Linked DNA regions of Homo sapiens: regions 2, 3 and 4 are each linked to region 1. Evidence: fine-mapped expression QTL. A gene starts in region 1. Each other region holds a variant in brackets. All regions are shown on one strand. Distances are from middle to middle.

Evidence for each region. PIP is the estimated chance that this variant, and not a neighbour inherited with it, causes the effect.
Region 2: its variant is fine-mapped to the expression of IKBIP in whole blood (TOPMed, PIP above 0.99).
Region 3: its variant is fine-mapped to the expression of IKBIP in whole blood (INTERVAL, PIP above 0.99).
Region 4: its variant is fine-mapped to the expression of IKBIP in blood mononuclear cells (TOPMed, PIP 0.92).

The regions. Positions count from the first base shown.
Region 1 is chr12:98,641,100-98,649,241 of GRCh38, forward strand. It overlaps IKBIP (IKBKB interacting protein), which reads right to left and starts at 3,689. Exons shown (of 3, transcript NM_153687.4): 1 at 3,424-3,689. The coding sequence starts at 3,602. APAF1 (apoptotic peptidase activating factor 1) reads left to right here and starts at 4,191. Exons shown (of 27, transcript NM_181861.2): 1 at 4,191-4,736; 2 at 7,220-7,398; 3 at 7,527-7,716. The coding sequence starts at 7,261. RefSeq lists enhancers at 2,407-3,034, 3,035-3,661, 3,662-4,289 and silencers at 3,866-4,065, 4,386-4,595.
Region 2 is chr12:98,713,055-98,721,196 of GRCh38, forward strand. APAF1 (apoptotic peptidase activating factor 1) reads left to right here. Exons shown (of 27, transcript NM_181861.2): 22 at 2,373-2,498. Among named protein-coding and RNA genes, the nearest start is that of APAF1, 72 kb to the left of the region's middle. RefSeq lists a silencer at 4,663-4,863. The variant G/A (reference allele first, on the strand shown) is at 4,082.
Region 3 is chr12:98,614,150-98,622,149 of GRCh38, forward strand. It overlaps a transcript of IKBIP not described here. Among named protein-coding and RNA genes, the nearest start is that of SNORA53, 19 kb to the left of the region's middle. The variant G/A (reference allele first, on the strand shown) is at 3,345.
Region 4 is chr12:98,732,697-98,740,838 of GRCh38, forward strand. It overlaps APAF1 (apoptotic peptidase activating factor 1), which reads left to right. Exons shown (of 27, transcript NM_181861.2): 27 at 1-2,737. It also overlaps a transcript of ANKS1B not described here. Among named protein-coding and RNA genes, the nearest start is that of APAF1, 91 kb to the left of the region's middle. The variant A/T (reference allele first, on the strand shown) is at 3,871.

The DNA.
Region 1 (8,142 bases):
ACACACTTTTAAGTTTCTTATGTATTATTTCTCTTTTCTTTCCACATAGGAAATGGTCTGAAGACAATGATATAGTGTGATTCCTTGAAATCCTTCTTGGGCAGTGGAAGGGTTCAGATTTTTTCCCTCCAACTTAATCAGATGAAGAGTGAGAGTAAGCAGTATTTAAGAGTACACAGACAGGCACACATATGCACTTGTATTTTAACCACCAGGGCCGTGTCAGTACGGAAAGCATTTAATAAAGATTTGATAGACCGACTTTTAGATGCTGAATTACGTGTTTTAGTGGTAAAGATCTCAATGGCTTTGTCAAAATTCTAGTGAGCTTTTAAGTATTTTAAGATGCCAAATACTTGCTTTTTATCTGGAAAATGTTTACAAATGTCTTATGGGGATATATTTTTATTTCAAAATTTACTATGAATAAATATTTTGCAATAAACAGCAACCAAAGTACATTTGCTTCAATTTTTGCAGCAAAAGATTTCACAAGAGCAACTAAGAGGCAACTATTTAAATAATAATTATAGAATCTGCCCATAAAAAACACATATAATACATACATTTTAGAGAGACAGGGTCTTGCTCTGTCTCTCAGGCTGGAGCACAGTGGTATAATCATGGGTTACTGCAGCTTTGACTTCCCAGACTCAAGCTATCTTCTCACCTCAGCCTCCCAAGTACCTGGGACTACAGCGAATGCCACCACACTTGGCTAATATTTAAAAATTTTTCGTAGACACGGTCTCACTATGTTTCCCAGGCTGGTTTCAAACTCCTGACCTCAAGCAATTCTCTCGCCTCAGTTTCCCAAAGTGTTGGGATTATAGGCATGAACCACTGGGTCTGGCCCCCAAAATTATTTTTGATATAGCATTGTGTTATCATTTTGCAAACATAGTTCAAATTAAATCTTCCTAATGAATGTAATACATTCATTACAATGTAATACAGGAATCACTAACAGCAAATTCCTGATGTGAGGGAAATTTTATTCCCATAAAGTTTAGTTTTCTATTAAAGCTTATCCCAGGATAGTAACTAACTTTCCCAAAACACAAAAGGTTACTTATTTATTTAGGCGAAGTCTCGCTCTGTTATCCAGGCTGGAGTGCAGTAGCAGATCTTGGCTCACTGCAACCTCCACCTCCCAGGTTCAAGTGATTCTCCTGCCTCAACCTCTGAGTAGCTGGGATTACACCAGGCCCAGCTAATTTTTGTGTTTTTGGTAGAGATAGGGTTTCACCATGTTGGACAGGCTGGTCTCAAATTCCTGACCTCAAGTGATTCGCCTGCCTCGGCCTCCCAAAGTGCTAGGATTACAGGCGCAAGCCACTGCACCTGGCCCAAAAAGGTTTTTTTTTCAATTTACTTAAAGGAGGTCAAGCATTTTAAGGCATAAGAGCCGTTTATTTAAAACAGTAAATTCAGTACATTTATTCCTTTCAGATCAAAATTAACATATTCCGTATTAGTAAAATAAATAATGCTATCTGCTTTTTTTTTTTTTTTTTTTGAGAAGGAGTTTTGCTCCATCCTGCAGGCTGGAGTGCAGTGGCACGATTTCGGCTCACTGCAACCTCCGCCTCTTGGGTTCAAGTGATTTTCCTGCCTCAGCCTCCTGAGTAGCTGGGATTACAGGAGCATGCCACCATGCCTGGCTTTTTTGTATTTTTAGTAGACACAGGGTTTTGCTATGTTGGCCAGGCTGGTCTCAAACTCCTGACCTCAGGTGATCCACCCACCTTGGCCTCCCAAAGTGCTGGGAGTACAGGCATGAGCCACTGCCGGCAGGCTGACAATTCTATTGTTTTTGAAGAGGGCGTTTAATCACTTTATTGTGACAAAATTTTGTTTGTTTGTTTTTTGAGATGGAGTCTCGCTCTGTTGCCCAGGCTGGAGTGCAATGGCACGATCCCAGCTCACTGCAACCTCCACCTCCCCATTTCGAGTGATTCTCCTGCCTCAGCCTCCTGAATAGCTGGGATTGCAGGTTTGTGCCACCAAGCCTGGCTAATTTTTGTATTTTTTGTAGAGACAGGGTTTCACCATGTTGGCCAGCCTGGTCTTGAACTCCTGACCTCATGATCTGCCCACCTCGGCCTCCCAAAGTGCTGGGATTACAGGTGTGAGCCACCGCGCCCAGCCGTAACAAATCTTTTAACTCTGAAAAATACACTATTTGGGATGAGTCACCAGTAAAGTATAATTCCATATGTAGTAGCATAAAAAATGTCTAGATGTCCAGGGTCTCTTCTAAAATTCTATCACTCTGGAAGATTAACAACAGTCTTACTAAATAACTTTACACATGAATGAAAAATGGAGAAAAATTCTATTAAGATGCCAATCTTATTAAAATGAAATGGGCTATTCCCTCCTCCCGCCAGAAAAAAAAAGGCTGGGAAAATAAAATTCACAAGTTGGTTTTTTTCTTTTTTCTTTTTTTACGAGTTGGTTTTAAGGTTATTTCTAATATTCATTTTTCCTAATGACACCAATATATCGCCATTTACCTGATTTTAAAACTGCAACTGGTTAGTTTTAAGTGAACACAAGTGCTATGTTTTTGTAGCTTTACCATATTCAATCTGTAACTTACTTAATAAAAGACCTTAAATTCATAATGCATGCACGGTGATCAAAATATGAGCACTCCTCCAAGCTCTGCTACTATAACGTTTGCTCCTTTGGGAGCATAATGATATGGTTTTCTTTTTTTTTTTTTTTTGAGACGGAGTCTCGCTCGGTCGCCCAGGCTGGAGTGCAGTGATGCGATCTTGGCTCATAGCAACCTCCGCCTCCCGGGTTCAAGCGATTCTCCTGCCTCAGCCTCCGGAGGAACTGGGACTACAGGCGCCCGCCACCACGCCCGGCTGATTATTCGTATTTTTGGTAGAGATGGGGTTTCACCATGTTGGCCAGGCTAGTCTCGAACTCCTGACCTCAAGTGATCCACCTGCCTCGGTCTCCAAACATAATGATCTGTTTTAAGGTTGCAAGTATTTCCATTAGGTATTTATGGGGTGAGTAGGGTGGGGCAGATGTGTCCCGGAATGGGGCACAGCGGACAGGAAGTAACGGTTTATAACAACGTGAACGCTTCTGACGTGTAGCGGGAGCTTCAGAAAGCGTGGCCGAATCTGCAGCTCTTAACAAATGGCTCGTTCCCAAACCTTAGCCTCAACTCCTTCTGAGCGATAGGGGCATGCTACCAGCACGGGGGGAAATGAGATACAAGAAACGCCCGAAAGGGAAAAACAAGGCTGGGCTGTTTCCTTCCTTTGGGGTCAAGACAGAGGCACAGAAGGCCCAGGTCTGGGAGGTTGGATCACCTCCGGCTGGATGTTGAGCCGGGTGGGAGCCCAAACAGCAGGGGGCCCACAGGAGGCCGGCCCAGGCAGCCTCGCGTCCACTTACCAGGCCAGGCCCAGGCACGTCCCCAGCGACAGCAGGCTCAGGCACGTTCGGGGGTCTGCCCAGCCCCCGCCTCCGCTGCTCCGGGCCACGGGGGTCTTCCCGCCCTCGCTCCGCTTCCCGGGCTCCGCAGCAGGGGCTCCCTTGGGCCCCGACTTCTTCCGGCTCTTCACCTCAGACATGTCTGGAGACCCTAGGACGACAAGCCCAGGGCAGCTTCTTCACCAGGGGGAGCAGGACGTGGCCGCCTTGGCGTTCGTGGGAACCCTGGGCGGTGACCGCGCCCCCTCACAGACTTGGCACCGCCCAGAGCCCAGCCCCTTCCCTCTCCCCGGCATCCTCGTTGCTTCACTGAGTCTTTCAGCTGCCAGCTCCATAGTTCCCCTAGGAGAGGTGGGCGGCGACCTCAACCCACAGCGCCTTCCACTGCGATATTGCTCCAAATCCGAGGAAATTCAAACTCCCGGGCGCGCGCAGGCCGACGGGACCCGAGGAGGAGGGGCAGGACGAAGGGGTCGCGCGCGCCACGTCGGGCGCGCCGCCGCTGCCCGAGTCCGGCATTGGTGGGAACGCGGCGCGTCCCTGAGGCTTAGCCACGCCCCGTCCGCGGGGTAGGCGGGCACTTCTACGCGCGCGGGCATGAGCCGTGGCAGGAGTGCGCGGCGGCAGCGGTGGCCGCCCCTTGGGGCTTGGGGTGTGTTTATTTGCATAAGCGGGCGCGCGCCGTCCGGGCTGGGTGGATCCGGCGGGATTTGACTGCTCCGCTGTCCAGAGGCGGAGAAGAAGAGGTAGCGAGTGGACGTGACTGCTCTATCCCGGGCAAAAGGGATAGAACCAGAGGTGGGGAGTCTGGGCAGTCGGCGACCCGCGAAGACTTGAGGTGCCGCAGCGGCATCCGGAGTAGCGCCGGGCTCCCTCCGGGGTGCAGCCGCCGTCGGGGGAAGGGCGCCACAGGCCGGGAAGACCTCCTCCCTTTGTGTCCAGTAGTGGGGTCCACCGGAGGGCGGCCCGTGGGCCGGGCCTCACCGCGGCGCTCCGGGACTGTGGGGTCAGGCTGCGTTGGGTGGACGCCCACCTCGCCAACCTTCGGAGGTCCCTGGGGGTCTTCGTGCGCCCCGGGGCTGCAGAGATCCAGGGGAGGCGCCTGTGAGGCCCGGACCTGCCCCGGGGCGAAGGGTATGTGGCGAGACAGAGCCCTGCACCCCTAATTCCCGGTGGAAAACTCCTGTTGCCGTTTCCCTCCACCGGCCTGGAGTCTCCCAGTCTTGTCCCGGCAGTGCCGCCCTCCCCACTAAGACCTAGGCGCAAAGGCTTGGGTAAGTTGACCTCCTCGCTTTTCTCCCCGAGCCAGGTTCTTTGGAGGCTTGGTAGCTGATTTCAGGGACTGAGAATTTGAGGACATGGAATATTTGATAACCATCCTGCTCCTGTACCAGGAAGAGAAATTCTGTAATGAGGAAGTAGTAAACTTGGGGTTTTCGTGGATAAACGTGCGCTGTTTTCTGTTTTACGTCCATGAAGAGTTTTGGCTTTCCATTTTGTTGTGGGTTACAAAAGGTTTTGAGACTTAGTTCAGATAAGTTGTGCAGTTTTAAAACGTATTTAAGATTTGCATATTTTAGTTTAACAGGACTAGGTGAAATTGGAAATTAGTTTCAGAAAACCAGAGTGTCTTATTTGCTTAGCTATTGGACATCACCTAAAAAATTCATTCATTCTTGTTTTTTCACATCGAATTTCATTACTATAAATTAAGGAACATTTTATGTTTAAGAGGACAAAAACGTTATTAACATTTTAAAAAATGAGAGTTTTGATTCGAATCAATAACTTTTTATCAGTTTTGTGCCCCTGCTGGGCATTTTGTAAGCCTTGACAAGCATAGGCAAATGCCCTACGTCCGTCCCTGTTTTTCCAAGTGCTACATTTGGTGACTTCAAAAACAGTCATTGAAGCTTGATAATTATTGCCCCCTTCTGTGAGCTCCAAGTTACTTGTGCTCTGTTTTTGCACTTCGGGCATTCACATTCCCACTCTCTCTCTCTTTTTCTTCTTTGAGTAGACTGTGAATTATTTCAGGCAAATGACTCAATCTTTTCTGTAGTCTTGGTGTCTGACATATAGGGAGGGGCACAAATGTGTATTGAATGAATGAATTGATAAACCCGTTTAGACTCTTTCACTCTATACATTGTGTAAAGTTCTGTTAATGTTTTGAAAACTTGCAGATATTGTGAACTGGGTTTTATGCCCATGGAAAAATTTGCATTATATTTGAAATAAAGTTGCTAGAAACGTCAAGTATTTTACTATAAAGGCTGTTATTCTTTCCTCATGTCCTCCTGGTCTGAGAAATCACATCAGAAAGTGTTTCCTGTTGCTTTGTGGGAAATGTGTTTAGCAAGGAGGACCTAGAGCTGACATCCTCCTTGAACGAGAACTAATACTCAATAGTAACAATGCTCTATTCACTCTTATGTTTGATAAGGAAAACAAGAAGTCTCTTAATATTAGGACTTCAATGTAATCACTATTTTATACAATCTTAATTAAAAAAGGAAGTATTTTATTGTAAGAAATGATAATGTGTGCTAAAAAAAATTGACAGTAGAGGCCGGGCATGGTGGGGCTCACAAGTGTAATCCCAGCACTTTCGGAGGCTGTGGCGGGTGGATCACCTGAGGTCAGGAATTCAAGACCAGCCTGGTCAACATGGTGAAACCCCGTCTGTACTAAAAAAAAAAAAAAAATAAGACAAGGTGGGGGAGAAATCCCAAATTTTGCTACTCAGAAGTAACTCAAACATTTCGATGAATAAACTTCTAAACGTCTATATATATTCATATGATACCAACACTTGTTTTTTTTTTTGAGACAGAGTCTCAGTCTGTCGCCCAGGCTGGAGTACAGTAGAGTGGTCTCGGCTCACTGCAACCTCTGCCGCCCTGGTTCAAGCAGTTCTCTTGCTTCAGCCTCCCGAGCAGCTGGGATTACAGGCACCTGCCACTGCATCTGGCTAATTTTGTATTTTTAGTAGAGACAGGGTTTCACCATCTTGGCCAGGCTGGTCTTGAATTCCTGACCTCGTGATCCACCCGCCTCGGCCTCCCAAAGTGCTGGGATTACAGGCATGAGCCACTGCGCCCGGCCCCCACGTTATGTGTTGTATGTGGGATCATGTTTCTGTTTTTTTTTTTTTTTTTTTTCAGCAACAGTATTATGAACATCTTTCCATGTCAATACATGGAGATATGTGTCATAATTTTGAATGGCTGCATAATATTCCATTTTATATACATACCCTAATTTTTAAAATCTATATTCAGAATGATGGACATTTAGGTTGCGTTCATCACTGAAACATCCTCCATTAATTCTTTTTTCTTTTTATTTTTTACTCTAGCCTCCCAATGTGCTGGGATTATAGGCTTGAGCTACCACACCTGATTGGAAACTCATTAATTCTCCTTGTGGATATTTTTACATATGTATTTGAATGTCTCCTTGAAGTAAATCCTTAGAAATGGGATTTCTGGGTTAGAGAGAAAGCTTATTTTAAACAATTCCATATCTTACTGCTTTCCAGAAAAATTGCATTCATTTTCTAGTTTCCCCAATTAGTGCATAAGAATGGCCATTTTCTCATACCTTTCCAAGCACTGGGTTTTGTCCATTTAAAAATTTTTGCCAAGGAAAAAAAATCAGTTTTGTTCTTTTTACGTTTCTTGTTTATTAGTGAGATTATGTATCTTTTCATATTTTTATTGGCCTGACAAATATTTTGGTGTTTTGGCTGTAGCTCATGGTTGACAGCTCAGAGAGAGAAAGATCTGAGGGAAGATGGATGCAAAAGCTCGAAATTGTTTGCTTCAACATAGAGAAGCTCTGGAAAAGGACATCAAGACATCCTACATCATGGATCACATGATTAGTGATGGATTTTTAACAATATCAGAAGAGGAAAAAGTAAGAAATGAGGTAAAGCTCTCTGAAGCAGTCCACACTTCCTTAAAAATTTTTAGAATTTCAGAACTTGTACTGGTCTCCACTACTTTATGTTGCATACATATTCATTGTTGTATACTAAACTACTTAATTTTTTTTAGCCCACTCAACAGCAAAGAGCAGCTATGCTGATTAAAATGATACTTAAAAAAGATAATGATTCCTACGTATCATTCTACAATGCTCTACTACATGAAGGATATAAAGATCTTGCTGCCCTTCTCCATGATGGCATTCCTGTTGTCTCTTCTTCCAGTGGTAAAGATTCAGTTAGTGGAATAACTTCGTATGGTTTGTATCCATTATACCTTCTATCACTTTGCTATCAAAATTGCTTTGGGTTTGTCTTATTGTAGATGTAATCTTTTGAAGAGAGTGTGACCAGTTCACTGAAAACTGCATGTTAAAAAAATTGTAGTGATGTTTTCAATTTAAATATTTTTTATTTGCATCCACATTAACTCTCAACTTTTCTTCTTGCCCAGTGAACTGTACTGCTGAGATAATAATATGTCTACCCTAATTTTTAGAGACAATAAGACAATTTATAGGCCCTTGTTTATTTTCCAGTTCTATGTGTTTATAGAGTTTATAGGAAAAAATAAGAATCTTTAGAAATATATGTTCTTGAAAGGTATTCCATAAATGTTCTTCCTTTTACACTTGCCTTCCCAGTCTTCAATATGAGAGGGAATGAAAAGTCAGGAAATAATTGGG
Region 2 (8,142 bases), 72 kb after region 1:
GTGATCTACCCATCTTGGCCTCCCAGAGTGTTGGGATTACAGGCATGAGCCACCACATCCAGCCTATTGTACACTTTTATACTAAATAAATCTTTCTGTGATCTATTAGTCATTGTTCGTTAAACTAACAATCATCTTATCCAGTTGGCTGTATATTTTTCAGATTTCCTTTATTACTGTTTCTCATGCTTTTTGTCTTTTTATGTCCCTTATTCTCTACTTAGTTGTTTGGCTGTTCTCCACATATATCAAATACTATCTATCAAGATTTCGCTAACTATGCAAAGAGCATTTTTTTCTCCTCTTCTTAGAAGCCCAGCCATGTGGGGTATAAGTTGTTTCCATTTCGGTACTGATAAGGCTCATGGGGAATATGGGTGCAGGGCTGCCTGTGCTTGCCTGTTCCACCAATCCTTGCTGTTCTACTTTTGGTGGCAGAAGAACCTCAGTTCACCACCTGAAATCCTTAATTTATCTAACAAGACCAAATAGGTAAAAATAGAAACACTTTGCAAGGCAAAAATGTAGTATAATAAAAGGCATTTTGGGTAAAAATATTGTTGTCTTTATCACAAGTGAAATTCATCCCAAAAGCACATTTTCTCTAGCTTTATAGTGGTTTTTCAAAAACCTTGGTTCCTTCTCTCACTTTTTCTCACCAGGTGTCTGGGAATTATTTTTTAACCAATTACTTATGGCACTGGCCACAGTTATTTTACTTTGGATTCATTTTCATAAGGAATTACACAAATATTCTCTAGTCCATATGGCCCCACAGAGAAGAGACTATATGCTTAGACACAAAGTGAAGAAGGAAGCATTTACACAGTGATCTCAATACTCTTATATATTTGTCATGGCCCTTATGTCATGGATTGAGAGTTCAGGCTTTGTTTTCTCTTTATTATTGTGAAAAATTTATTTATCATTTGTTAAGATGTGTACTATTCTGGGATAAAGTACATCATGGATATGTATTTCTTAAGCAAGGGATAATTGTATGTTTACAGGTGAACCTTAGGCTTCCATCTCAGGCTCATCTCTCAAACTGTTGTGTATTATTATTTATTCTTAAAGAGTCCTTGGTTTCCCTTTTCTCTTTACCTTGATGCCAAGTCAGTACCACATTCTTTTCATTTTTACCATCTATCTTAAAATAAGTCTTTTAGATAGTTTAAAAATAAACTCACAACACACATATGTGCTTCATCCACATCGTTAGTTCCCTCAAAGTCATCAAATAATATAAATAATACATAATGAACCATGTGAAATTACCAGCATTTACCTATAAAGTGGCAGTTTCATATGGTGTAGCCTCATATCATCAAATAATAGCAACTACCATTTATTAACTGTTTACTGTGCCAGATGCTCTCATTGAATTCTTATAACATCCTGGATGTTCGATGTTGTTATTCTTGTTTTAAAGATGTCTAAACTCTTATTTCCACAATTTTCATAAAATCAGTAAGTGGCAGAGCTAGGATTCAAACCCAGATCTCTGAGGCTGTGTGCTCAACTGTTATGCTATCCTGCCCTTGCCTCAGGGTTTGTGAGATCGTTCATCCCGCTCATTTAGGAAGGTTTCCATTCACACAATTCCCCTTTGTTTTCAAGGGGCTTTTCTTCCAGACGTGGGTTAGGTTTGAGTTTCTGGTGTCTCCTGCTTTAGCATCATCTGTATTTTCCTTAGGCTTTCTTGAGTACATTTTAATTTGGTCAATGAAACATATTTCCTCTCTTTTTGTTTTTTTGGTATGAGTTCATTTGAAAGCCTTTTTTTTTCTTTTTTTTTTTTTGACATAGTCATTATCTTTTGAATTTGTTACTACTTTTATTTAGAGTATTATTAGTCTTTGGCCCTCTTAAGTATTCTCATTGCACTGCCCACCAGCCTTCTGATATCCTGTCTCCCTCATCATCTTTTATCTTTCCTTGTTTGTGTTGTTTTATGAATAATTTGCCTTCTCATCCAGGACTTACTTACTTTCTTCTCTCTTATCCATCTTAAATGTCTTTTTTTTTTTTTTTGGAGGGCAAGCCCAGACAGCCACTTGTTTGATGAAGTGGGTAGTTGAGTACTCAGAAGGACCACTGGTTCCTACTGCTGTCTGATGATTGCAGTGAGTGTTTTATTTTAGGGTCCAATATGTTTGCATGTAGGCATACATGGTGTGCATATATATATATATATATATATATATATATATATATATATATATATGACATTCATTTGTTTTTAATTAGGCTGGAAGCACCAGATGGAAATTCTGTACCCTCCAGTCTAATTTTAGTTTAATATCTTTGGGGTGTAATGCCTATGTATTGCTTAGTTTCTTCTTAATTTTCTGTGTTTTTCTGCTTTGAAGATTTTAGAACTTGTAAACAATAGAATCTTCCAGTCCAGGTTTCAGCACAAGAAAACTGTATGGCACATCCAGTTCACAGCCGATGAGAAGACTCTTATTTCAAGTTCTGATGATGCTGAAATTCAGGTGAGAGGGAGGATGAACTCTTAACATATTTAATGCTGATTCTAGCAAAGGAACACTATGATTATGCCTAAAATCTGGTGTATATTTTAAACACATTACGTTGGGCATACATTCAGATTATGTACATGGGCTTAGATGAAACCTATGGGTGTTTCATATTTTTCTGTGGGTGAGGCAGACAGTTTATCTTAGAATCCTCTGTTGGAAGGTTGTTTATTTTGAAAATGAAGGGTTTGTTTGCATTTTCTTGCCTGTCTTGGTATTTGGATTTGTATCAGTAAGTATACTTTTTGCCACATTTATGTAATTTCTCTTTATTTTTCTTTACAGTAGTAAAATCCAATGGAAATCATTTCATTCTTTCCTTTTAAGAACAAAATGTTTATTACAGGAATGAAATTCTGTGAAAAGAGAATGGTTTGACATAATAAAGAATTGTGGATATGGAGGCCTAAACTTACTATATATTCTTTTAAAATTTACTTGATTATTAAAGTCCCAATGCACATTCTTTTAAAATTCAAATAGTATTACAAGACTTATTATGAAAAACAGACCCTTTCCCCCATTTCTCGTTCTCCAGAGGCACCACTTTTAGCTTTTAGATGATTCTTTTGATATTACCTTCATGCCTCTATATGGCATGCTTATAGTGCTCTTCTTGATTTTCCCATTTGAGAAGTTATCTACCGAATTCCCTACAGGAAGATGTTGCTTTTTTCCGCCTTCCACCTGTCCTGCCTTCAGCTTATGTGCATGCACACGTTCACAGACACTCATTTATCAATCCATTTATCCCAATTATAACGAAATTTTGTTTAGATCCTTCCTGTTACTATGATCACTGTGTACTAAGGGTACTGTGAATGCATTTTTTGCCTTAACGCAATTTAGGAAAATTTGACCTTTGGGTGTAGTTGGAAATTATTTTACACTAAAACTTTGAAGACATTGCTCCATTTTCTTCCAAGTTCCAAAGTTCACGTTGAAAAGTCTGAAGCCATTTTGCTGCCTAATCTTTCTCTCTGGAAGATTTTAGGATCTTCATTTTATCCCCAGAATCTTGAAATTTCCTGATGATACACTGTGTTGTTAGTTTTTATTCATTGTTTTGGATATTCAGTCTTCCTTTTCAATTTGGAAACCTATGATTTTTAATTCATGGAAGTTGAATTATTTCTTTGATTCTTTCCTTTTTGTTCCAGTTTGCTTTCTCTTTTTGTAACACCCATTATTCAGATGTTAGATCTCCCGGACTGATAATCTAGTTTTCTTTTTCCACATTTCATCTTTCTATAGTGTGCTTTATGTTTTTTTCTTTATTTTTTTTTGAGATGGAGTCTCACTCTGTCACCCAGGCTGGAGTGCAGTGGCGCGATCTTGGCTCACTGTAACCTCTGCCTCCTGGGTTCAGGCAATTCTCCTGGCTCAGCCTCCTGAGTAGCTGGGATTACAGCCGTATGCCACCATGCCAAGCTAATTTTTTGTATTTTTTTTAGTAGAGATGAGATTCCACCATGCTGGCCAGGCTGGTCTTGAACTCCTGACCTTGTGATCCGCCCGCCTCGGCCTCCCAAAGTGCT[G/A]GGATTACAGGCATGAGCCCCCGCACCTGGCCTACTGTGCTCTATTTTTGGGGAGTTTTCCTCAGTTTTGCCTTCCAGCCATTTTATTGAGTTTTTCATTTCTACTAGTATATTTCTAATGTGTTAAATTCTTATTTTGTAGATAGAATATTTTATCTCTCTGAGGAGATATACACACAGACAGGTAAATATATATAATATATATATAGAAATTATATACACACACACACACATATAATTTTTTTTTGTTTTTTTTTGAGACGGAGTTTCACTCTTGTTGCCTAGGCTGGAGTGCAATGGTGCGACCTTGGCTTGCTGCAACCTCCGCCTCCTGGGTTCAAGCGATTCTCCTGCCTCAGCCTCCTGAGTATCTGGGATTGCAGGCATGCACAACCACACCCTGCTAATTTTTGTATATTTAGTAGAGATGGGGTTTCTTCATGTTGGTCAGGCTGGTCTTGAACTCTGGACCTCAGGTGATCCACCCACCTTGGCCTCCCAATGTGCTGGGATTACAGGCATGAGCCACTGTGCCTGGCTTATATATATAATTTTTTCCCCATAAATTTTTGTTTTGCTGCATAGTTGCTGTTCCCTCCAAGTTGCTTTTTTCTGTTTGGTTGTTTTGACCTCCTATTTTGAAGGCCTCCTTAGCTCTCAGTGGTCATTGGCTATCAGAGATCTGTACTGAACAACTGGCTGAAAGCTCTGTGTGTTGACTGAGATCTTCTCTAAAAGGTGAATCTGAAAGGGGAAACTTTGTTGTGAGTATCTTCAGGTCTTTTGTCTTGGTCTCCTCAGATTCCTAGAGAGGAATTTTCTGGTCTTTTGCCTGGAGGATAAACCTGGCTGGCAGGTTCTCAGAGCTAAGTTGGGGAAGATAACAGGAAGTATTAATAGATGTTGGATCTCAACATTTAGTATGTACACCTTCCCTTGATCCCTCATTCTCAGAATTGTAATTCTACCCTCAGTTGTGCTGGTGCCCTTAAATTCAGAGATTCTTCTTTCTAGTTTGCTGTCACTGTCTGTCTACTTTCTTCCTTTTTTTCCCATAGTAACTTTGGGATTCAACAGCAATTCTTTTCTTTTCTTTTTCTTTCTTTTTTTTCTTTTTGAGACAGTCTTGCTCTATTGCCTAGGCCGGAGTGCAGTGGTGCAATCTCGGCTCACTGAAACCTCCACCTCCGAGGTTCAAGTGATTCTTCTGCTTCAGCCTCCTGAGTAGCTGGGATTACAGGCACCTGCCATCACATGCAGCTAATTTTTTTGTATTTTTAGTAGAGACAAGGTTTCACGATGTTGGCCAGGCTGGTCTTGAACTCCTGATCTCAAGTGATCTCACCTTGGCCTCCCAAAGTGCTGGGATTACAGGTGTGAGCCACCGTGCCCGGCCTTCTTTTTTATGTAAAATCAAGTTTCCTAAACTCCTTGGAGGAGTGGGGAAGTCCAGCATTTCTAGCTTCACAGCTCTGCAGCTCGTTCTCTTATTTTCACGAGGCATTAAAAATATGGCCTTACTGGGCGCAGCGGCTCACACCTTTAATCCCAGCACTTTGGGAGTCTGAGGTGGGAGGATTGCTTGAGGCAGGAGTTAGAGACCAGCCTGGGCAACATAGCGAGACCCCATCTCTGCAAAACAAAATAATTTAGCCAGGTGTGGTAGTGCATGCCTATAATCCCAGCTACTCAGGAGGCTGAGGTTGGAGGATCGCTTGAGCCTAGGAGGTCCAGGCTGGAGTGAGCTATGATCATGCTACCGCACTCCAGCCTGGGCAACAGAGCAAGTCCCCATCTCAAATATATAATGGCCTTGTTCTTAGGAGATCTCTTTGCCCCATCTCCTTCCCTCTCAGTTATTTCGACCTTCTCTTTCCTTTGATGCCCTTATCCTCGTTCTACTCCATTGGATTCTATTCCCTGTGGTTTCTCCTCACTGTAGGGTTGTTCTGGTTAATTTTGAGAGCTCACAAGGCTCACACTGCTCCAGTCCTTCCAGACTGTACCTCACACTCAGTGTCTCCTGCTCTTCTCTAGTTGTTCCATTGCACTTTTCGGTGAACACTGTGTGGCTATCTTAGGATTCTCTGCCTCCTAATTCTTAATACTTATATTCTTAGCCCCACCCTCATTTCCTCCTTTGGGTATACTTAGTGCCTTCCATTTTTGAGCATTTTGGGAGTTCATAATGCCGATTTTGTTGCTTTAGACTTTTTCTTTTCTTTTCTTTTTTTTGAGACAGTCTTGCTCTGTTGCCAGGCTGGAGTGCAGTGGCATGATCTTGGCTCACTGCAGCCTCCGCCTCCTGGGTTCAAGCAATTCCCCTGCCTCAGCCTCCTGAGTAGCTGGGACTACAGGCCCGTGCCACCATTTCCGGCTAATTTTTTTTTTTTTTTTTAGTAGAGTTGGGGTTTCACCATGTTGGCCAGGATGGTCTCGATCTCTTGACCTTGTGATCCTCCCGCCTCAGCCTCCCAAAGTGCTGGGATTACAAGCGTAAGCCACCACGCCTGGCCACTTTTGACTTTTTATAATGCCTTTAGGATTCTGTTTTCTTGACTTTGCTGAGTCAGTTACCATTCTCTTGCTTTCCAGCCTCCCACATTTTGTTGCTGTTATCTCCTTTCTCATTCTTTTGATCTTGCCATTTTAGTAGGGCTTTAGAAGTGAAGGATAGAATGCATATGTTCAGTGGAAATTATTATATTCTTTTATTTAGTATATATATTAATTGTGGTGGCAATATTTAATTGTATTGTTAAAAACCCTTTTGGGAAAAAGATCTTTTAATGTTATGTCTGTGTGAGTCCTAGGAAGCAGTATGATTGCAATGAAATTTGGCTTTAGTACAGAAACTTACTTGTTATAGGCTCCCATGACACTGGTGTTCTAGCTGTAAAACTCAGTGTAATAGTCACCTTTCTTCCTCTCCAGATGTCTTTGGAATGGGTAAAACTAAAAACTACATCTGATGAAGTTCTTTTGAGACATTGTATACTATGTATTCTATCAAAAGTTAAATTCATAAGGTTTTTATGACCAGCTTGACGATTTCAGGTATTCTCAGCTAGGGGGAAGAATAATTTCTAGAGATATTTTTAGAAAAGGAGTTAGATTATATTTAGAAATATGAGTTAAGTAGTTGTGTTTCTTCCTCTTTTTCTGTTCTACTCAGAATACTTTTTACATTTACAGTGTTTTAAATGTAACAAAACTCTATAGATATTTTCGAGAAATGACTGGTTGGGTTTTGTTTTCATTTTTTAAGGTTTTTGTAAATGATTAAGTGGAGGTTTGTTTTAATTATCTTTGTATCCCCAAAGCCTGGAATCCAGTAAGGGTTCTGTAAATCTTTGCTGAGCTGAAGTTATTGCCAAACTTTGAAGAATCAGCTCACCTGATTATAGCCCTTAGGATTGTGAACATTGAGGTCTACTTTGGTAGTTTTTGATCCTTTACCTTGAAGTAAATAAAGGCCAAGTATTACCCATGCTTACATGAGCCAGTATATAGGACTATGTTAGTTCTTGCTGGTATGAAAAGTTTCCAGCCGGGTGCGGTGGCTCACGCCTGTAATCCCGGCACTTTGGGAGGCCGAGGCGGGCGGATCACGAGGTCAGGAGATCGAGACCATCCTGGCTAACACGGTGAAACCCCATCTCTACTAAAAAATACAAAAAAATTAGCCAGGCGTGGTGACAGGCACCTGTAGTCCCAGCTACTCAGGAGGCTGAGGCAGGAGAATGGCATGAATCTGGGAGGCGAAGCTTGCAGTGAGCTGAGATCCCGCCACTACACTCCAGCCTGGGCGACAGAGCAAGACTCTGTCTCAAAAAAAAAGAAAAAAAAAATTTCCTTAACATTTCTACAATTTAAATTTTATTCATATAGCTGAAAAAAATTCTACAAGTATATATACATTGCAAAAATAGTCAATGATAGAGACATCCCCAAACTCAACTTTTGCATTTGACTAATGGTGGTGGAAGTTTAGTGATATTAAGGTTATTCAATTAGCACAGTGTGTTTCCGTGCAACAACAACAACAACAACAAATCACT
Region 3 (8,000 bases), 27 kb before region 1:
GAAGTTGTACTTTGGTCTACTTTTGTAATGTCTTGAGAAAGCGTCGTCAGACTGTTGTTCAGTATATCCTGTTTTTCAGTTATCCTATTGGACCAAGTTTTTACCTCATTAATTTCTTCCTGTAGACGCTTTAGATGAGCAATTATTTGAAAAGACTTCAATTGTTCCATGATAGCTTCAGATTTCTGCCACTATAAGAAAATATAATATCACAATGATTAAATGTATTAGAAGCTTACCATTTAAAATTCATCTTAAATTTTATATTTCTTTTTAATTTTAATTTTTTTTTTGAGACAGAGGCTTGTTCTGTTACCCAGGATGGAGTGCAGTGGCACGATCTTGGCTCACTGAAACCTCCACCTCCTGGGTTCCAGCGATTTTCCTGACTCAGCCTCCCAAGTAGCTGGGATTACAGGCACCCGCCCCCACCTCAGCTAACTTTTTTTGTATTTTTAGTAGAGACGGGTCTTCACCATGTTGGACAGGCTGGTCTCGATCTCCTGACCTCTGGTTATCTGCCCACCTCGGCCTCCTAAATCCATGCCTGGGATTACAGGCGTGAGCCACCACGCCCTGCCTTATGTTATTTTTTAACTACACTTTACTGTTCTTCTGGAAAGCATATGGTAAAAGACGACTTCAGAAGTAAGAGAATTTAGAACAATGTAAGTGAATTACTAATGAATAAGAAGGAAACATTAAGAAAATTTCATGAAATGTCCCTGGAAATTACATTTTTTACATTATAATATTTTCACAATTGGTCTTCTGTACAGTAATAAAATGAGCTACATGAGACAGTGATGTGGTTTTTCAGTTGCTGGAGAAGGGAAAAGGAAGTTTCCTCCAGTTGAGCTTTGCTAGGTGAGACAAGGCAACATAAGTTCTTTTTTATTTCAGCTTTATTAAGGTATAATTGACAAATTAAAATTGTATATATTTATTGTGTACAATGTAATATTTTGATATACATATCTACGCACATATTGTGAATGATTAAATCAAGCTAATGAACATATCTATCACCTCATGTATTTTTTTTTGTAGTAAGAATATTTAAGATCTACTCTCCTAGAAATTCTCTCTTTTTTTTGGAGATGGAAGTCTCACTCACTCTGTACCCAGGCTGGAATGCAATAGCCCCATCTCTGCTGACTGCAACCTCTACCTCCTGGGTTCAAGTGATTCTCCTGCCTCAGTCTCCAGAGTAGATGGTACCACAGTTGTGTGCCACCACGCCTGGCTGATTGTTGTTTAGTAGTGACAGGGTTTCACCATGTTGACTAGGCTGGTCTGAAACTCCTAATCTCAAGTGATTCGCCCGCCTCGACCTCCCAAAGTGCTAAGATTATAAGGCATGAGCCATCGCGCCCGGCCTCTTAGCAATTTTCAAGTATATATTATTATTATTTACAGTCATCATACTATACAATAGATCTCCAGAACTTATTCATCCTGTTTAACTGAAACTTTGTATTCTTTAATCAACATCTCTCAATTGTCCTACCCTGTCCCCTCCAATCCCTCGTAACCATTCTACTCTGTACTTCTATGAGTCTGACTTTTCTAGATTCCACATATAATTGAGATCATGCAGTATTTGTCTTTCTGTGCCTGGTTCATTCCACTTAGCATAATATCGTTTAGGTTCATCCATGTAGTCACAAATAACAGGATTTCCTTCTTTTTAAAGGGAGAACCGCATTTTGTGTGTGTGCGTGTGTGTTATTTATCATTCATCTGTTGATTGACACTTAGGTTGATTCTACATATCTTGGCTATTGGGAGTAATGCTGCAATGAATATGGGAGTGCAGAAAACTCCTTGACATACTGATTCATTTCTTTTGGATATATATCCAGAAGTGGGATTGCTGGATCATATGATTATTCTTAGTTTTTTTTTTTTTGAGGAACCTCCACACTGTTTTCCATAATGGCTATACTTTCCCACTCACAGTGTACGATGGTTCCCTTTTCTCCACATTCTCACCAACACTTGTTATCTTTTGTCTTTTTGATAATAAATATTCTAACAGGTGTGAGTTGATATCTCATTGTGGTTTTAATTTTTCATTTCCCTGATAATTAGTGATGTTGAGCATTTTTTTCCATATACCTGTTGGCCATTACTATGTCTTCTTTTGAGAAATGTCTATTCATGTCCATAGCCCATTGTTTAATTGGGTTTTTTTTTGCTATTGAGTTGAGTTCCTTATATATTTTGGATATTAAGCCATTCTCAGATTTATGGTTCATGAGTATTTTCTCCCATTCTATAGGTTGTCTCTTCACTCTGTTGACTGTTTCCTTTTCTGTACAGAAGATTTTAGTTTGACACAATCATATTTATCTATTTTTGCTTTTGTTGCTTGTTCTTTTCAGGTTCTATTCAAAAAAATCTTTCCCAAGACTAACGTCAAGAAGCTTTTTCCTCATGTTTTCTTCCAGCGGTTTTCAATTTCTGGTGTTACATTTAAGTCTTTAATTCATTTTGAATTGGTTTTTGTATATGGTTTGATATAAGGGTCCAGTTTCATTCTTCTGCATAGGATATCCAGTTTTCTCAACAGCATTTATTAAAGAGATGTCCTTTCCCTTTTGTGTGTTCTTGGCAACTTGGATGAGAATCATTTGAACATACACTTGTAGAAGTATTTCTGGGCTCTCTGTTCCATTAGTCTATGTTTTTTTTTTAAATGCTAGTATCACGCTGTTTGGATTACTACAGCTTTGTAATATATTTTGAGATCGGGTAGTGTGATGTCTCCAGCTTTGTTCTTTTTGCTCAAGATTGCTTTGGCTATTCGGGGTCTAAGGCAACTGCAAATAAGTTATAGCAAATGCTAGAATGAAGGGACCAATGTCCAAGACTATATGTCTACGCTTTATTGGCCTGTAACTTTTATGAACAGTTTTCTGGCCTATCTAACTATCCATGAGACCTTGAATAATTCAAATTCTCAAGTTCCTAGTATGTTGTTAGGCATGCAAAATATGTGGAACATAAAGATGAGTATAACTCGAGTTGTGGCCTCAACTTAGTTTAGTAGAGAAGACAGATAAGTAAAAGAAAAGAATTTCCAAGGTTCTAAAATTCTGATTCCAAATGCAGCTGTTTTTCAACTTTTGTATGTTTCAATGTCATCCTTCTTCCCCACTATACATTATGAACTGAAAGCTCTTAAATTGTCACCTTGATTTAACTTGGACACATTAACTGATAAACATTTGGAGCCACCCAAGTGTCTGGCAACATCTTGAGTTGTTATTTTTGTTGTTGTTTGTGGTGATGGTCCTGTGTCTGTGCACACACATGTGCGTGCCTATATAGCAGTGTTG[G/A]GGAGTTGAGTATTTTATCGAACTTTAAATATTTGACATTTTATTGCATTGTGCCATCAGTTAATAAAATGAAGAAGGGAAAATTACATAGCGATAAGATGGGTAGATCTCATAAACCACACAAAGTTGGATAAAGTCGTACAATTAAAACAAAGATGGAAATCAGGTAAGACTATTTAGCTTCAATCAGAAGATTAGCCTATGGACTGTGTGCTCAATTATGAAGAAAAATAAATTAAGAAACAAATGTAAAATGGCTAGAAATACATTGCTAATGCGTATGCCCAAAGACAGATATACAGTAATTACTCTGGAAAAAGAATCCCATTTATAATGTGTAAGTCAATCATTTGACTTTTGCATATTTAACTTTCAGCTTGTTTTCTAGGAAAGTACTATGTTGTAAAGTAGGAAATTATAACTTTCTATTAATAACCAAAACTAGTTTGATTTGACAGCATATACTGTACTACAGTATGTCCTAGTATGATCAAGAACAGTCTCTGCTTTTAGGGAGTTTGTAGTTTAGTTTGGGACACAGAATGTCGATAAATGTGTTACTTAAAATTCAGAAAAGAAGAAATAAAAAAGCTTGAGTCCAGGAGTTTGACGCTGTAGTGTGCTATGATTGTGCCTATGAATACCAACTGTGCTCCAGCCTGGGCACATAGCAAGACCCCCATCTCTAAAACAAAAAAATTGAAATTAAAATTTATAAAAACAAATAGACTGTAAAACATTTTTACAAAATTAAATATGCAGTTTAATCTAAAGATATCTTTTTTTCTAAAATAATTGTGTATTTCTTCAATGTTTTCTTATCAATTATCTTTCTTAAAAGAAAAAATTGAGGCCAGGCGCGGTGGCTCACGCCTGTAATCCCAGCACTTTGGGAGGCCGAGGTGGGCGGATCACAAGGTCAAGAGATCGAGACCATCCTGGCTAATGCAGTGAAACCCTGTCTCTACTAAAAATACAAAAAATTAGCCGGGCGTAGTGGTGGGCGCCTGTAGTCCCAGCTACTCAGGAGGCTGAAGTAGGAGAATGGCGTGAACCCGGGAGGCGGAGCTTGCAGTGAGCCGAGATTGTGCCACTGCACTCCAGCCTGGGCGACAGAGCCAGACTCTGTCTCAAAAAAAAAAAAAAAAATTTGAGATGGGGGTCTCACTATGCTGCCCAGGCTGGTCTTGAACTCCTGGCTCAAGTGATCCTCCCAAAGTGCTGGGATTACAGGCGTGAGCCACCACACCTAGCTTGAATTATCTTTCTTAAATTGTATTTGGATTACTTGGCTAATGCCAACCTTTTGAGATTATTTTGGTTATCATACATTTAGTTTTACTTAACACAAATAAAAATGAATTATGCTCAGAATATTATTTTGAGGGCAGCTTTAAAAAGAAGCATCCATATAGTTGCAAAATAATTATAATGAAGTACAGAAATGGGACAGTAGGACAAAATAATTCTAAGTAGCAACCCCCCCACTTCGCCCCATCATAAATGTTTAATTTCAAAATACACTTGAGGATTTTTCTCCTCAATTGCTTTATGCTTAAATTAATTATTGGTGGATAAGGTGGCCCAAAATGTGTTTTTTGGTAGAGAAGTGAGTTTGCGAAATGTTCCTGTGGGTATGACATTAAGCGGTAGCCACAAATAGGAAGGAAACCAAGAAGTGATTGCAAAATCACATTTTATTTTTAAGGAGGAAGTTTTGCAACATAGTGTATTTGATGAAACAATCTCCCAAGGGAGAAAGGACTAGACGGCTACTTTAATCTATTTCATTACCAGGTTATCATTTATTAATGTATCTACTCTGGTAAAAGTAGCTTAATAGCAATTAAACAATTAAGATGTTGATGAATGAGCTTAGCTTATTCTTAGAAGGATCAGATTATTAGGAAGAAGCTGTTAGTAAACCTCTTTGTTTCACTTGGTTGTTTATAATAGCAATGTATCATGAACTTCTATTGATCTTTATGAAAATATAAGCTCAATACAGTGTGGTAATAGTCTACAGATTGTTGTATTAAGTTATTTTAAAAATTACTTCGGGTTTGGTTAACCTATTTGCCTAGGATGGATAGAAGAGTTAGAGTCTATCAGTAGCTGAAAACAGCACATCAGTGAAGGCTGGGGATGGTGGCTCACGCCCGTAATCCCAGCACTTTGTGAGGCGGGGTGGATGGGTCACTTGAGCTCAGGAGTTCAAGACCAGCCTGGGCAACATGGTGAAACTCCATCTCTACAAAAATTACAAAAATAGCCGGGCTGAGCTGGGAGGATGGCTTGATCCTGGGAGGCAGAGGTTGCAGTGAGCTGAGATCATGCCACTGCACTCCAGTCTGGGCGACAGAACCAGACCCTTTCTCAGAAAAAAAAAAAAAAAAAAAAAAGTACATCAGTGATTTGATTATTTATTTATTTATTTATTTATGAGATGGAGTCTCACTCTATTGCCCAGGCTGGAGTGCAGTGGTGCAATCTCTGCTCACTGCAACCTCTGCCGCCTGAGTTCAAGTGATTCTCCGGCCTCAGCCTCCCAAGTAGCTGGGATTACAGGCATGCACCACCACACCTGGCTAAGTTTTCTATTTTTTTTTTTTTTTTTTTTAGTAGAGACGGGGTTTCACCATGTTGCGAACTCCTGACCTCAAGTAATCCGCCCACCTCAGACTCCCAAAGTGCTGGGATTACAGGCATGAGCCACTGCCCCCGGCCAGAATATTTATTAAATTCCTATCATATATTCAAGGTATGAGGTTAGATGCTGTCCTGTAATGTTAAACATTGCCTGGATCTACAAGCACAGCAACATGGTTCAAGAATATGATTTCTAGGTCCAATCTGCTTTCTAAAAACTTGCTAAAGGATTTTTTTTTTTTGAGACGGAGTCTTGCTCTGTCGCCCAGGCTGGAGTGTAGTGGCGCCATCTCAGCTCACTGCAACCCCTGCCTCCTGGTTTCAAGAGATTCTCCTGCCTCAGCCTCCCAAGTAGCTGGGATTACAGACGCTCACCACCACGCTCACCTAATTTTGTATTTTTAGTAGAGACACAGGTTTCACCATGTTGGCCAGGATGGTCTCGATCTCCTGACCTCGTGATCCACCCACCTCAGCCTCCCAAAGCGCTGAAATTACAGGCGTGGGCCACTGCACCCAGCTAGGTTCTTTGAATTCTATTAAAGGACCTGGAAATTTTATTGATCTGTATAATTTAAAACCATTTAGATCAGGCGCAGTGGCTCACACCTGTTATCCCAGCACTTTGGGAGGCCAAGGACGGAGGATCCGTTGAGGTCAGGAGTTTGAGACCAGCCTGGGCAACATAGAGAGACCCTCACCTCTACTTTTTTTTATATTAAAAAAAGGGTAAATAAGTAAATAAAACCACTTAAAGCCAGAAGGCATCTTAGGGATTATTGATATAATTCTCTCCTTTTACTATTTAAAACTAAGCCCTAGTGGCCGTGCGTGGTGGCTCACACCTGTAATCCCAGCACTTTGGGAGGCCGAGGTGGGTGGATCACCTGAGGTCAGGAGTTCGAGACCAGCCTAGCCAACCTGGTGAAACCCCATCTCTACTAAAAATACAAAAAATGAGCCGGGTGTAGTGACAGGCACCTGTAATCCCAGGTACTTGGGAGGCTGAGGCAGGAGAATTGCTTAAACCCAGGAGACGGAGGTTGTAGTGAACCAAGATTGTGCCACTGCACTCCAGCCTGGGCGACACAGCAAGACTTTGTCTCAAAAAACAAAACAAAACAAAAAAAACCTAAGCCCTAAAATAAAGTGCCCAGAATATGCAGTGGCAAAACCTATTAATAGATTAGAGGAGTACAGCCTAGGACTCTTCAGCACTGCTTTTTCCTCTTCTCCAACATTTATTCATTTATTGATTCCTTCTCATGCTCAAGGGCCAAACAATTTTAGAGCACAGCTACAGCTTTTGAGGGACTGAGTCTGGTTTAATGGCAACATGGTAGAGAACACATTTGACTCAATTATTGCTTTTTGAGTTATCGAGATAGTTCTACTAACAGCAGATTTGTTGTGATTTTTCTCCCCTAGTTGAACAGTAGCAGGCTCCATGGTGTAGTGAGATGTCCTTGGCCTCTGGAATTGAACAGACCTAGGTCTACAGTGTGACTGCAAGATTCCCAATGTTCCTAAGTCTCCATTTCCTTATTTGTAAAATGGGTCTAATAGCTAGTAAAGGTGTAGTAAGGATTAGTGATAATGACTGGCACAAGGTAGGTAATCAATATATAGAGCTGTTATGATGACGATAATGAAGGCTGGACGCGGTGGCTCATGTCTGTAATCCCAGCACTTTGGGAGGCTGAGGTAGACGGATCACGAGGTCAAGAGATCGAGACCATCCTGGCCAACATGGAGAAACCTCATCTCTACTAAAAATACAAAAATTAGCTGGGCATGGTGGCGCATGCCTGTAGTCTCAGCTACTCGGGAGGCTGAGGCAGGAGAACCGCTTGAACCCGGGAGGTGGAGGTTGCAGTGAGCTGAGATCGCACCACTGCACTCCAGCCTGGGGACAGAGTGAGACTCCATCTTAAAAAAAAAAAAAAAAAGGAATGATTATGATGAATGTACATCTCCTAGAAATGCTTGACATACGTGTGGGTATGT
Region 4 (8,142 bases), 92 kb after region 1:
TTGTGGTTGGATGAATAATATTAATGTAGCTTTTTCCCAAATGAACATACCTTTAATCTTGTTTTTCATGATCATCATTAACAGTTTGTCCTTAGGATGCAAATGAAAATGTGAATACATACCTTGTTGTACTGTTGGTAAAATTCTGTCTTGATGCATTCAAAATGGTTGACATAATTAATGAGAAGAATTTGGAAGAAATTGGTATTTTAATACTGTCTGTATTTATTACTGTTATGCAGGCTGTGCCTCAGGGTAGCAGTGGCCTGCTTTTTGAACCACACTTACCCCAAGGGGGTTTTGTTCTCCTAAATACAATCTTAGAGGTTTTTTGCACTCTTTAAATTTGCTTTAAAAATATTGTGTCTGTGTGCATAGTCTGCAGCATTTCCTTTAATTGACTCAATAAGTGAGTCTTGGATTTAGCAGGCCCCCCCACCTTTTTTTTTTGTTTTTGGAGACAGAGTCTTGCTTTGTTGCCAGGCTGGAGTGCAGTGGCGCGATCTCGGCTCACCACAATCGCTGCCTCCTGGGTTCAAGCAATTCTCCTGCCTCAGCCTCCCGAGTAGCTGGGACTACAGGTGTGCGCACATGCCAGGCTAATTTTTGTATTTTTAGTAGAGACGGGGTTTCACCATGTTGGCCGGGATGGTCTCGATCTCTTGACCTCATGATCTACCCGCCTTGGCCTCCCAAAGTGCTGAGATTACAGGCGTGAGCCACCGTGCCTGGCCAGGCCCCTTCTCTTTTAATGGAGACAGGGTCTTGCACTATCACCCAGGCTGGAGTGCAGTGGCATAATCATACCTCATTGCAGCCTCAGACTCCTGGGTTCAAGCAATCCTCCTGCCTCAGCCTCCCAAGTAGCTGAGACTACAGGCACGAGCCACCACACCCAGCTAATTTTTAAGTTTTCTTGTAGAGACAGGGTCTCACTATGTTGTCTAGGCTGGTCTTGAACTCTTGGCCTCAAGTAATCCTCCTGCCTCAGCCTCCCAAAGTGTTGGGATTGCAGATATGAGCCACTGGCCTGGCCTTCAGCAGTTCTTTTTGTGAAGTAAAACTTGTATGTTGGAAAGAGTAGATTTTATTGGTCTACCCTTTTCTCACTGTAGCTGCTGGCAGCCCTGTGCCATATCTGGACTCTAGTTGTCAGTATCTGAGTTGGACACTATTCCTGCTCCCTCTTGTTTCTTACATATCAGACTTCTTACTTGAATGAAACCTGATCTTTCCTAATCCTCACTTTTTTCTTTTTTAAAAAGCAGTTTCTCCACTGCTAAATGTTAGTCATTGAGGTGGGGCCAATTTTAATCATAAGCCTTAATAAGATTTTTCTAAGAAATGTGAAATAGAACAATTTTCATCTAATTCCATTTACTTTTAGATGAATGGCATTGTGAATGCCATTCTTTTAATGAATTTCAAGAGAATTCTCTGGTTTTCTGTGTAATTCCAGATGAGTCACTGTAACTCTAGAAGATTAACCTTCCAGCCAACCTATTTTCCTTTCCCTTGTCTCTCTCATCCTCTTTTCCTTCCTTCTTTCCTTTCTCTTCTTTTATCTCCAAGGTTAATCAGGAAAAATAGCTTTTGACAGGGGAAAAAACTCAATAACTAGCTATTTTTGACCTCCTGATCAGGAACTTTAGTTGAAGCGTAAATCTAAAGAAACATTTTCTCTGAAATATATTATTAAGGGCAATGGAGATAAATTAATAGTAGATGTGGTTCCCAGAAAATATAATCAAAATTCAAAGATTTTTTTTGTTTCTGTAACTGGAACTAAATCAAATGATTACTAGTGTTAATAGTAGATAACTTGTTTTTATTGTTGGTGCATATTAGTATAACTGTGGGGTAGGTCGGGGAGAGGGTAAGGGAATAGATCACTCAGATGTATTTTAGATAAGCTATTTAGCCTTTGATGGAATCATAAATACAGTGAATACAATCCTTTGCATTGTTAAGGAGGTTTTTTGTTTTTAAATGGTGGGTCAAGGAGCTAGTTTACAGGCTTACTGTGATTTAAGCAAATGTGAAAAGTGAAACCTTAATTTTATCAAAAGAAATTTCTGTAAATGGTATGTCTCCTTAGAATACCCAAATCATAATTTTATTTGTACACACTGTTAGGGGCTCATCTCATGTAGGCAGAGTATAAAGTATTACCTTTTGGAATTAAAAGCCACTGACTGTTATAAAGTATAACAACACACATCAGGTTTTAAAAAGCCTTGAATGGCCCTTGTCTTAAAAAGAAATTAGGAGCCAGGTGCGGTGGCACGTGCCTGTAATCCCAGCTCCTTGGGAGGCTAAGACAGGAGGATTCCTTGAGCCCTGGAGTTTGAGTCCAGCCTGGGTGACATAGCAAGACCCTGTCTTAAAAGAAAAATGGGAAGAAAGACAAGGTAACATGAAGAAAGAAGAGATACCTAGTATGATGGAGCTGCAAATTTCATGGCAGTTCATGCAGTCGGTCAAGAGGAGGATTTTGTTTTGTAGTTTGCAGATGAGCATTTCTAAAGCATTTTCCCTTGCTGTATTTTTTTGTATTATAAATTACATTGGACTTCATATATATAATTTTTTTTTACATTATATGTCTCTTGTATGTTTTGAAACTCTTGTATTTATGATATAGCTTATATGATTTTTTTGCCTTGGTATACATTTTAAAATATGAATTTAAAAAATTTTTGTAAAAATAAAATTCACAAAATTGTTTTGAAAAACATTTTTGGATTGTTTCATTCTTTGCTTGTCATTTATCTGTTGATTAGACCACTAAAGTGAAGGATTCAAGCTAAATACATCAACCTTTCTATTTAGGCTTTATCAGCTATATGTAAATTCAATTCTATCAAAATTTTCTGAGTGCCTCCTCAGTGTGTCTCTCTGATGGTTCCTGCCCGGTATGGCTGGCATGAAGAAGATCCTGTAAAAAAGAGAATTCATTTATTTATTCACTTAGTTTGTTCATGCATTTGTTTAATAAATATTGAGATGTACCATGTGCCTGGCATTGTGGTAGGTATTGGGAACACAGGAGTGAGCAAAACAAAAGTCTTGCTCTACTGCAGTTAAGGGCCAGGGAGAGGCAGAAAAAGTAAATAAGTAAAATCTATAGTGAATTTGGTGGTATGTACAAGCGGAGGGGAAGGGGTTACGGTTTTAGATGGACTGGCTCTTTCAGAAGCTGACACTTGTACAGACCTGAAAGATGTGAGGAAGTGAGCTATGCATCTGTCGGGAAACCATTCTGAAGGATACAGCAGGTGCAGACTCCAGTGGGATGGTTGGTGTATTCTGGGAGCAGCCAGACGGCCCATGTGGCTGGAGAAGGGTGAGTGTGAGGAGTCTAACAGGAGAGGCAGAGAGGAATTGGGGTAGCACCGGAGGCTGCCTCTTAGGCCACAGTAAGGACTTCACTTTTGACTCTGGGAGCCAGTGTAGGAGTTTTGAGCAGTGGTCTGATTTAAGCTTTAACGAATCACCCAGGCAGTGGGAATCAACTGAAAGGGGAACCAGTGAGAAGCTTTTGTAATCATCCGGACAAAATGAAGGTGGGCCAGACTAGGGTGGCAGCAGCAGAGCTTGTGACAAGTTGGATTCTGGACATATTTTGAAGATAAGAGTTAATAGGATTTGCTGATGGATTGGATAAAGGTTGTGAGAGAGACAAGAAAAGAATGATGCAAGGTTTTAGCCTGAGCAACTGGAAGAAGAGAGTTGCCGTCAGCTGAGATGAAGACAATGAAAGCAGCTTTGCGGACGCGGTAAGTTTGAGATGCCCGTTAACGAGACATCCAGGTGGGGATGCTGAGTAGGCGGGATGCAAGGCTCTGGAGTTCATGGGAAAGCTCCACC[A/T]GGAGGTAGAAATCTGAGAGTCATCAGTGAATTGATGGTATTTAAAATCAGAGGAGTAGATGAAATCAGCAGTGAAGTGGGTGTAGATAGAAAAGACAGGGGGCCCCAAGACTGAGTCCAGGGCAGTCTGGAGATCAGTGGGATGAGGGATAAGCCCAGGAGACTAAAAAGGACCAGCAGAGACTAAGAGTTGCAAATTAGTGTGGTAAGTACAGTGAATGCAGCAGGCATGGGCCCCTTAACGTCTTCTTGTCTGTAGTCCTTGATCAGTCTGCTCATTCACCCACCTATCTATCCTGTACTCCTTGAGCATCTGCATGCCAAGCACTGTTTTAAGCAGCAGAGGAAGCAATAAGTAAATACATTTGAGTTGTTGAGAGATCATGGGGACAACAGATGATAAGAAAACAGGACAGTATCAGCAGTTGTCTTATCTGAAAAATGAGGATCCGTTCCTCCCTCCAGATTGTTGTAGGATTTAATGAGATAAAGCTCCTGAAGCACTTATCTCATTGCCTGCACTAAGAGACCGCTCAGGGGACATTCTGCAATGCCATTTGAGCTCCCTCCTCTTTGCCTGGCAACAGCCCCAGCTGCCATCTCTGCCTCCAGTTGTGCCCTTCTGCATGATCTTTCCAGAGCACTCATCTGAATCACATTAAACTTCTCTGTTTAAACTTTGTGTTTACACTTCTGTTTAAACCCTGGACCTGCTCCAAGTTCTCTTCTGTAGCTTTGTGTACACTGTTTTCTCTATGCTGTCCTCTCACCGATTTTCTTTTCCCCGCTAACTCCCTATGTTTCACAAATTCTTTAAGATGACCCTCAAGAGCTGAAGGGCTGCCCTGCCCTCTCCTAGCATTCTCTTTTCTCTGTCATGGCTTTTGTTGTTTTGGAATTGCTTGCTTATTGAGGTCCCCAGTAAATCGTAAGCTCCTTGAAAGCCAGGACTGTATAGAGTCTAACATGAGCCTAGCATTGCAATGAGGGCCTCAGTAAACACTTGTTGGATGACTGGAATTCATCTCCTGAGTTCCATGGGATGAATTTGCCCACGTGTTCATAACACAGTCTATGTTCTTCCTTTCCATAAGGATATCATGAGGCTGTCAAATGAAGATGTAGCATATCACCAGCATTTTATCTTGCCGTTTTAGTTTGGCCTTTTTCTGTGAAACATCATTAGGGGAAAGTAAAACTTTACTTGGACAAAAGAGGTTTGCTACCAAATTATATAAAATGAATAAACATATCCCTGGAGTGTTTAAGTCAGCAAGTATGGCCATCTATTATTCCACAGACATTTTATATTATAATTTACTCACTGAACTTTAACGAAGGAGAAAATGATTTTCTAATAATTCTTAGTCTTTGAAGATTGTCACTGGAATACATTCCTTGCTCATAACCACTCCCCTTGGGACCGTGGATATACTATACAGTTATTAAAATGCCTGAATTAGAAAATCTGCTGCTCTTGGGCTATGAGTTTAACTATAGAAGAATTACTGTATATGCTCACACGAGAGGGGCAGAAGAAGGGGGTCACATTTGAGACGTAGCAGAGACCAGGCCTTTGAAGTCCTCTGGCATCAACAATGACTTGCTCCTGAGTCAAATGATGTGAGAAAACCAGAATTTGGGAAATTTTCATTTCAATTAAGATTCAGGAAAATGAGTCACTGGTGTTCTTTGTAAATTCATTTATGAGGTCAGGCCCCCAGAACTGGGAATGCTCCTTATCACATAGAAATGAATAGAAAAATCTGCCTCTGTAATTTCCATCACCCAGGGCTAGAATATGTAACTAGAGAGGGTGGTCGAGGCCTGAGTTTGGGTCTGGGGGTTCAGAGCAACCGATCAAACTGGAAAACTGAGCAGGTGAGTGGAGACTCCTGCTGTTCTGAGGAGCACACGTTCGCATTCATTCAAATGTTTATCGCCGCTCCACTCGAGGCACTGCCCAACTCTCATTTATCTTCACAGAAGTTGAGTGGATCTGCAGACTGCAGCTTCAGTTTTTAGATAGAGGAAGAACTAAACCCCAGCAGCTAATCGGTGACAAAGCCAGGGCTAGAATCCAAATCTGCTATTCTTTATAGATAGAAAGGCCAAGACTCTTAGGCTTGTAAGTCACCTGTCAGTCACAACTGGAAGTAGAATACTCCTGGGTTCAGTGGCAGATGACATCAGCCTAGGGGTCATAAGGCTTGGTTTCACTAGCTGGGGAAAGTCATCCAATAGCTTACGTGATGGTTTTGGAGATGTTCTTATATTCACCTTCAATTAGCAGTGAGCCCTTCACTAAGCCCTTCATCTTGGGCTTATTGCCCTACTTGCTGTCAATTAACCTCTGGAGACACACCAAGTCTTTTAGAAGGAAGGAAGGGAGCTACTATTTTTTGAGGGCCTTTTATGTGCCAAGCCCACAGGCTGGGCATTTTCCATACGTTATTTAACTGAATCATAACAGTGCTGCAAGGTGTTATCTCTTTCATAGGTGTGCAAACAGATGCAGAGAGGTTAGGTTTCCAGGGCCCCACAGCCAAGTGGTGGAGCTGGGTTTCTGGTCCACGGCCTTCTGTCTCCACTGGGTGACACTCCCTGTACCTTCTCATTGAAGCCCCTGGGCTAGAGGGTCCAAGAGCATCACTTCAGTTCTGCATTTCATTCGTTACTCACTTGCATCAGGACAGATGCATCACTACTAAGCTCTCGGAGAAGGCATCAGATGCTGTCTGCTCCCAAGGAGCTTCTACTTTTGGTAGTCTGCTTAACTTGTATCTGTGCCTGTAGAGATTGCTCTTTGAAAAAAGCAGCAGGAACATTCTGATAGAAGCCAATGGATGGGACAGGTGGGGGGAATGCGTTGGATTTGCCAGCACCTGGCCACTGCCCAACCTGCTCTCAATTCTCAGATGATTCAGGTATTGAGCAAGGAAGGTAGCAGAGCTACTGTTGCCTTCCCTTTGGGGAAGCCTGTTTCTACTTTGAAACTCTTAAGGGATTCATTTCAAATTAGTGGCAGGCCTTGGTTAGTGGATCTGTGTGCTGTCTTCTGCCATCTTGATTGCATCTCCCCCCTTCTCCTTTTCCTTTCATTTGAAAAAAGATGCAGCCCCTCAGAGCCTCACTTTCCTGATTTGTCAAATAGGGAACCTAATGTACAAGGCTTTTGTGGGGCTTAGAAAAAACATGTCAAGAATCTGATATAGATCTCAATAAACAGCATAATACTTATCTTTCGTCCCAGTTACAAACCCCCATTCCTGTACTGCCCAAATCTCCATGATTCACAAATTGCGACCCTGCTGCTTCTGCTCCATGGCAGACACCTAGCTCCAGGCACCCTCCTCTACCACCTCCTTCTCCTTATGGCCATTGGCTTTTAGGAGACAGACATTGCTTACTTAGCAGGAAAGCTGTCACCTGCTTTCTTTTGAACTATCCCGAACTTGATTCTCTTTGGGCGACGCATACACCCATCAAGTGGTAAAGAAGACTGGGAATGAGGGGAGAAAAGACCCTGGGCTTGTTGCTGGGGCCAGTAGCTTGGGAGTGTGGTGGTATGTGTGTGGCTTTGGCTGTCAAGTGGATCTAAGTTCAACCCTGGCTACACTGACTTTCCAGCTGTGTGACTTCAGCAAATGGGTTAATCTCCTCAAGGATTCACTTCCTAGGGAGGCTTTAAATGTCCCCGGGTGATTCCAGTGTGCAGTGGAGGTTGAGAGCCAGCGCCCTCTACTCTCACCCTTGATGCCCAACCAACTCATTGCCAGTCTCCTCCTTTAGCACAGCCCATGATGCTGCGATGTCTGCCAATGCAGCATGCCCCTTTGTGCCTGCTCTGCCCATAACATTCTCAGGAGCTTGCTGGACAGCACAGATGTTTGGTGTGCATATTAACCCAGCTGTGGGGATCTTTCCTGCTCAGGTTTGGTGGCTAATTTATAGAGCAGCTCTGTCAGGATGATCACCAATCCCTCTTACAGGCACTGCTTTCTCTGTTCAAGTGTCTCACATGTGTGTGCTTGTGTTTGCCTTTTAGCTATTACTGTGATGATTCCCAATGTAGTAGACACTGCCAGTGACCACCGCAATATCCAATCTCCCCCTTTTCCTCACTAACAACCCCTGCATTGTTGGGGGCTGCAGTGTGCTCAGCTAAAACTAACAATTGCAGCCACATTTTCCATCCTCCTACATAGGGGTGGCCAATAAGCTGTATGCAGAAGTTGTGGGGTGGAGCTTCCAGGAAAGCTCTTAAAAGTC